Homo sapiens: one gene and its partner. The protein of the gene in region 2 interacts with the protein of the main gene of each other region in a pairwise test. Each region holds a gene or a part of one and is shown on either strand. Other genes may lie near its edges.

Region 1 (3,915 bases), on a different chromosome or scaffold from region 2:
TTTCAATAAATTCATCAAACTTTTTTCTTGTTAACTTCTTTTGTTATAGGAGTGTCTTCTATGACCCTTATGATGGGTGAGGAAAGGTATCACACTTTTCTGCCCCTATAGTTGACAAGTATTTTATTTTTTTAGAGATGGGGTCTCCCTCTTTCACCTTTTTTTTAGAGATAGGGTCTTGCTCCGTCACCCAGGCTGGAGTGCAGTGGCACGATCATGGCTCACTGCTGCCTTGACATGGGCTCAAGTGATTCTCCTGCCTCAGCCTCCAGAGTAGCTGGGACTACAGGTTCAAGTCACCGTTCCTGGTGGACAATTATTTTAATAATCAAGGCCGGGAGCAGTGGCTCATGCCTGTAATCCCAGCACTTTGGGAGGCCGAGGCAGGTGGATAGTGAGGTCAGGAGTTTGAGACCAGCCTGGCCAACCATGGTTTAGTAGAAACCCCGTCTCTACTAAAAATACAAAAAATGAGCTGGATATGGTGGCGGGTGCCTGTAATCCCAGCTACTCAGGAGGCTGAGGCAGGAGAATCGCTTGAACAGGGAGGCAGAGGTTGCAGTGAGCCAAGATCGCGGCACTGCACTCCAGCTTGGGCAACAGTATGAGACTCCGCTCAAAAAAAAAAAAAAAAAAAAAGGCCGGGCGCGGTGGCTTACGCCTGTAATCCCAGCACTTTGGGAGGCTGAGGCGGGTGGATCATGAGGTCAGGAGATCGAGACCATCCTAGCTAACATGGTGAAACCCTGTCTCTACTAAAAAAAAAAAAAAAAAAAAAAAAATCAGCCGGGCGTGGTGGCAAGTGCCTGTAGTCCCAGCTACTCGGGAGGGCGAGACAGGAGAATCGCTTGAACCCGGGAGGCGGAGGTTGCAGTGAGCCGAGATCGCGCCACTGCACTCCAGCTTGGGCAACAGAGCGAGACTCGGTCTCAAAAAAACCCAAAATATGGCAGTGCAATTTGTTTTCTCATTGCTATCATAAAGCATATGAACAAACTAAATTTCAAATTCCCCGAAAAGGAAAAGTTTATTGCTGATCTAATTAGACAGGTCCGAAAATTTATGTAGAAATAGAAACTTTTCATAATACAAATCTTGATAAAACATTACAAAAGCTACTGGATAATTGACTAAGTATGCTGCAACAGCATCCTGAGCTTCCACAGTGGGCCTGAAGCAGCAAATTAAATGTTAGAGGAGTGGGGACTGAACACCCTCCTGCCTTCTTGAATCCAGCAAGATCTAGATACCAGGATTTCCTTACCTCACCTGCCCAGATACAGGTGTTATTCTTAATTCCAAAAGACAGCTTCAAGTCGGTAAGATCTGATTTCTAGACCCAGCTCTGTTGGACGAGTTGTGAACAAAAAATTATACACTATCATTCACCCTTTCGGTGCTTTATTTCCTAAGGCATGGGATGGGAACAATGAGTATCCGTCCAACCTACTTCACCAGCTTGTGAAAAACCAGAGTGAGAGAACACATCTGAAAGCACTGGGTAATGATGAGGCAGGTTATACTGAAACATGCACTGCCAGAGTTTGAACCAAGTTCTGCTGAAGACCTGTGTGACCGCGGTAAGTCATGTAAATATGAACCGTTCCCCAATTTGTAAAACGTATTCTTTTCATGTCCCCAAACTGGTAGGAGCGAAGAGTGTCGGGGCGTTATTGGAGCCGTTTCTCAGCGCTCCACAGTGCACACCAAGAGGGCAGGTGTCCTCGCACTCGGTTTCTAAACTCTGGCTCTGGGCTTCTCTAGCCTCGCTCTCTTATTTACAGATGAAGAAGGCTCAGAGACCGAGTGACTTGTCCACGGTCACACAAGGAGTAGTGTTACAGAATCGATTCCAGGGCCACCGGGTCTGTAAGGCATTTGGCGCGGTGGCCGTTGGATGAGCAGCCAGCAATGGCGGCTCTGCAATGTCGACACCGCAAAGCCAAGCCAAGGCCCATCACCTAGCGGCCGGTTCACGCACTACAAGAAAAGTGCCGTGAAAAAAGACTCTGGGTGCTGCGGCAGACGGGAGCCAATACGCGCTAAGTTCGCTCTGCTAATTCCTTTTTTCTATTGGTCCTTCCAACTGTCAATCAATTATTTGACTGTCTCTTATTGGCTTGCCGTCAATCATTTTACTCAGTCTACCAATCACACGCTCTTTGCCAAGTGCTTTTTTTCGTCCTGACGACTCTTTCTGAGTCTGACGAATTTAGCCAGTTCCTTTATTCCATTGGCCAGATCAGACTCCTCCTCTCGTTTATCCTGTTGGGGGCGGAAGTGAGAAAGCCCTTATTCGTATTGGCTTAGATTTGCAAGCGGCAGTTGTCTATCAAATCTATCAAGTCGCCCTTAGCGCTCAGGAAGTACGACACCGGAAGGGGTGGGCTTTGCGAAGATGGCGGCGCTGGTGAGTTTGGTGTGGTTTCTTCCTCGCGTAGCTATTGTGGAGTTGTCCTTTGCCTTCAGCGGCTGGAGGCAAACTGTTGGTACCAGGGAAGGGTGGTGATGAAAGTTGCTTCAGGGAGGCGGCCTCCCTAGAGTTACCGTTCCTGTCCGGTAACCCAAGGGGCTGGCTTTAAGGCGAGTCTGTGAACCCGAGTGTGAAGGCCCCGAGTCTGGGTGTCTGACGGAGAGAGGGCAGTTTCCCACCCTAGACGTTCCACTTTCCTATAATCCTGAGGAAAGAATGACTTTTCTTTACGCCTCCTCTCCCTTCTGTAGGGGGTGCTGGAGTCCGACCTGCCAAGTGCCGTGACACTTCTGAAAAATCTCCAGGAGCAAGTGAGTAGTGTCGCCTCTGGAATAAATTAGTCACGGATTGGCTTTGAGTTTGTGTACTTCACCTCAAAACTTTGGTGATTGAGATACGTGAATGCTTCCAAAAACCTTAGAGTAAAATGATGTAATCAAAACCTTTTCACGCCAGAATTCTAAGTAATTGATTCTGCACCCAAGGGAATACAAGAAACTCCAAAAAGAAATTATATGAATAGTTTTCCTTTATTCATATAGCTAAGGAAACCAGTGCTTGGAATGGTAACATGACTTGCCCTTTGGGTGCCCAGGTAATACACACTTATATACAGATGCTTCTCGACTTAACGATGGAGGTTATGGCCTGATAAACCCATTGTAATTCGAAAACCTCATAAGTCGAAATTTAGGCTTGATGCCGCTGCCCAGCATCACGAGAAAAGGACGGTTTCTACCGAATGCATATTTCTTTTACACCCTCGTAAAGTGGAAATTAAGTCATAAGTCGGGGAGTTATGTAGTTCTATGCATTGTAAGTTCAACTAGTACAAACAAAATTACAGTGCTTCAGTCACTACTCTCTCAGTCCTTTTCTCCTCCCTGTGGTTCAGTAAAAGATGGTCTCTTCTTTAAGAAGTGGAAAGTTTTTTTTTTTTTAAACTTTTTGAAGAACCATCTCTCCTATGCTTTCCGAGAAGTGAGAAGATAGTACTATACTTTAGACAGTGTTTCAGATAATTTTTAGGTGGCATTGTTTAGCTTTTGCTCTTCACAGTTTGCAGACATAATTTGATATAATCTAATCACTTGTTTTATTTGGGCTAATTTCAGGTGATGGCTGTAACTGCACAAGTGAAATCACTGACACAAAAAGTTCAAGCTGGTGCCTATCCTACAGAAAAGGTAAGATGTACTCAAACAGTAAGCATCCCCTGACTTAATGTTCTCAGTAGTTCTTTCATTGTATGTTTATTGTGTCTTATATATCCTAAGTGCTCGAGCTTCAAACATAAATATGATCCAGTTTCTGTGCTGAAGTCTAGAGGGAAGACAAAGCAAAGCAATAGATGTAAGTATTAATAGTAGCAGTCACATTACAGAGTTATGAGTCTCCAGCCAAAGAGAGGGATTAATTAACTGCCAGAAGAGCAGAGGGAT
Region 2 (3,915 bases):
AAACCTCATCAATTTCTTTATAACTGCACCCTCTAGTGGCCTGTTTTATCTATTAATTTTTTTTTTTTTTTTGACAGTCTCACTGTCAAAAGTCTCACTGTCCAGCCCAGGCTGGAGTACAGTGGTACAATCTTGGCTCACTGCAGCCTCTACCTCCAGGGTCCAAGCAATTCTTGTGCCTCAGCCACCTCAGTAGCTGCTATTACCAGCATGTGCCATCATGCCTGGCTAATTTTTATATTTTTAGTAGAGACAGGGTTTTGCCCAGGCTGGTTTCAAATTCCTGGCCTCAAGTGATCCGCCCACCTTGGCCTCACAAAGTGCTGGGATTACAGGGGTGAGCCATCACGCTCGGCCATATCTATTAAAAAATTTTAAGACAATCATACACACCAGCCTCACTGCTTAGAGAACCCTGTCCAGTGTGCCTGACCCCTTTTCCCTCCCTCCTTCTCCTCTCACCCCCAAGATAGTTATTTGAAAATGGCTTGAAATACAAACAATAAAACCTTAGATCAAAAAAAATCTCAAAATATAATACATTAACAGACAATGATATAGCTCTACCAAACATTCACACGCAGGCAACAGAATAAGCCTTTGGGTTTACCAAGGACATTTTACAGTCAAAGGGCCACCTGCCCTCCTTCCTTCCCTGACTACATTCTCAGGGAAGCTTTTCCTTGCAGACACTTCGTTGCAAGGTCAGCTTTCTCTCTCAGCACGTTGGCTTCGTCGGCGCTTCTGTGGGCCTGTGCGTTCTTTAGCAAGAAGTGGCTGATGAAAAGCTTCAAACCCTCACGTAACACCCCCAGCTTTGGGTTGTCAGATACTCTGGAAAGGAATCGTATAAACACATGTCAGGGCTGAGCTGGCCTCTCCTAGATCTCAATCCTGGGTATCTCGCATAGTGAGACATAACCAGTTTCTTTTAAAAATAAAATTCTCAATTAAGAACTTCTTAACATATTTTATTATTAACAATCATTGTTAGTTTGCTAGCAGACAAGTTTCTATTCCCCAGATCTAATGCATACCAGCTTAAAAATAAAACCGAAAAGATTAAGCTACACGTATAGTACAACCTTGTGTTTGTAAATCAACACAAGTGAAAACAATCTCTTCATTTCTCTTCCATGTCTCGTCGGAAAGGGTGGGGCACATACCTTGTGAAAATTAAACTGAGGTCTTCAACTTCTGTTTCCATTAATAGGATACTTAATACTTTTCGTAAAAAACGGACTCTGGGTTTGTCCAATTCACTGAATTCAACTACCTAATGGTCAGGACATGGAGAAAAATAAAGTTACACTGATTTAGCCAACTTTTTCAATGATTTGTAATATAGTTAATTAGAGTAAAAATTAATCTCCCCCCTTCCCCCACTCTACCCGATTTAAGAAGCTATTTCCAGAGCTAAGAAATGAACACCTGTTGGCAAGGATGTGGGCCTTGGGAATTCCTACACACTGCTGGCAGAGGTGTGGCCGGCCACAGCCACCGTTGAGAACAACTCAGCAGTGTAAGTGGAATTCCCGGGTCATACACCTTATGAATCAGAAATTCAGTATCTAGAACTGAACCATAAATTACCTCCATTCCCAAAAGTACCCATCCCCTAATTAAAACTATATATATATATATATATATATATATATATATATATATATATATAAAATTTACTTCTAGAAGACTAATCCATATATATCTCTGCCCTAGAAAACTATCAAAAAATCAGAAATAAACACGGATCAGTAGGATAAGTAAGTATATAAACTGAGGCATACGTATACAGTAGGATGCTACCCAGAACAGACTCACGGGCGCCAACGTGGACCCACTGCAATCTTAGCTGAATGTCAGCGAGCTAGAGGAGGGGACTAAACGCATGGTGACGGGAATGCTACCCACAGGGAGGTGCGCAGCCAAACACCATCACAGGCGCTTGCGGACCCGAGGACGCGGCGAGACCACAAAAGCATGGTCGAAACACAGAGAAACTCGGAATGAGAGCAGCCCGGAGGGGCAGGGCGGGGGGCATCTCTAAAGCTCTACGCCTGAGGGTGTGCTCCTGCCACGCCTCTCCCGCTCATCGGTGGTAGCATCTGTGCTGTTCCAGGATGAGCGCAATGCCTGGGCGAGCGAAAGGCAAGGCAGGGGAGCGGAGGGGGAGCAACGCCTCCTCCATGAGCTAAGTTATTCCAGTTGTCAGGATTTGGCGTAAGGCTCGGTGCCCTCATTTTCAGTACAGTGGCCAAACTTGGACACCACACAGCAAGGGACGCAGGGTGAACTGGAGCCGGCATGCTGATGAACTGCACACGACACACAGAAACACACGGGAAGCTGTGGCTGCGGCTGTCTTGTGGGTCTGGGCCACTGCAGTCAACGCCCCTCAACTATCTCTGCTTTTCACTTCCCTTTGCCCCCCAGGCGCTCCAGTTTTTTTTTTTGGCTATTCAGAGTCTGTTGGTCCCACCATCCAAGCCTTACAGGCCCACATCTAACCCCAACTCCACCTGGTAAGATGTCTAGGTTTCAGCTGGGCGCACTGGCTCACACCTGTAATATTAGCACTTTGGGAGGCTGAGGAGGGCAGATCACAAGGTCAGGGGTTCCAGACCAGCTTGGCCAACATGGTGAAATCCCGTCTCTATTAAAAATACAAAAATTAGCTGGGCGTGGTGGCATGAGCCTGTAATCCCAGCCACTTGGGAGGCTGAGGCAGGAGAATCGCTTGAATCCCGGAGGCAGAGGTTGCAGAGATTGCACCACTGCACTCCAGCCTGGGTGACAGAGCAACTCCCATCTTGGGGGGGGAAGAAAAAAGATGTCTGTGTTTCATGGTCCACTGCAAAGTCCCAAAACACAGCAGGGCAGGAGAAAGCCTACAGTTTTAAAACACCTTACATCAACGTGAGCAAACTCACCTCACCTCTAAGGAGACCAGGCCCTACTTCATCCGCCCTTCTCCTCACTAACAGTGACCAGTTCAGGATTTTATAATTAGGACCAGCAAATTAACCTCAAGCTCCAAAACACATTCATTCAGATTAGCAAAAGAACTGCAGCGGTGCCTTCATTTACCAGATCAATTTGTAGCACATGTTAGTCTGGCCGTTTTCTGTCCTGGCTAGGATAATGCAAGCACTTTTCAGATGAATCAGAATCGAAGAAAATACGCTGGTAAAACAGGACCTGATTTACCAGGTACTAAACAATTACACTCCCATTTCCATTGCTTTCAATATTTTCACACGTTACACGAACCTTTAAGATGGAAAGGGAAAGCGATTTTGTCTTCAACAAGTGGGCCACCAGATGAACCAAATTAGAGAAATTCGTAGCTGGCAAGTTTTCCAAGTCCCGAAATTTGTCCCATATGCTGAACTGGAAAGTCATCTAGTATCATAGTTAAAAGGAGAAAAAAGGCAAACGGCCACAAATTACTATAATATATCACTAACAACATAACCTAAAGGTATTTTCTTATTATCTTATTTTTAATATTCTAAACATCAAGACTTTTAGTGGTGGCCTCACTGTTCTTGCCTATAGAGCATAGTCCCAAACAGCTTCACAAGAATCTCCTTCTGGTGCAGTTCTTCCCCCCAAATCAGCAGATACTAACAGAACATTCTAAGGAAAAGGCCACAGCAAGGGGCATCAGAACAGACTGGTGCACTGTGAACCGACGAGGTGCTCCTGCTGGCCTGGCCACACTGCCTGCATCTGTGGCAGAAGCAGGTGACATGAGGACATGGTGGACCCTTGACACTCCCCTCTAGCCCTCCCACTTCCGCTCCCAGTGAAGGTGGCCTGGCAGCCAGCGTGGACCAGGTGACGGGGATATCAGGGGCCTCCTGACTTGGGGAACTCCTTTGCAGGTGGGTTGAGCCAGGTAGCCTGTGTAGA

What was found.
Region 1: the proteins of NOM1 (region 2) and NGDN interact in binary tests that used the Homo sapiens proteins (3 or more experiments, as listed by UniProt).

The regions. Positions count from the first base shown.
Region 1 is NC_000014.9:23,467,318-23,471,232, forward strand, and holds the start of NGDN (neuroguidin), read left to right. Parts: upstream 1-2,385; 5' UTR 2,386-2,398; coding exon 2,399-2,410; intron 2,411-2,724; coding exon 2,725-2,784; intron 2,785-3,588; coding exon 3,589-3,660; intron 3,661-3,915. UniProt on the Homo sapiens protein: Part of the small subunit (SSU) processome, first precursor of the small eukaryotic ribosomal subunit.
Region 2 is NC_000007.14:156,966,448-156,970,362, reverse strand, and holds part of NOM1 (nucleolar MIF4G domain-containing protein 1), read right to left. Parts: intron 3,403-3,915; coding exon 3,271-3,402; intron 1,277-3,270; coding exon 1,167-1,276; intron 835-1,166; coding exon 660-834; 3' UTR 1-659. UniProt on the Homo sapiens protein: Plays a role in targeting PPP1CA to the nucleolus.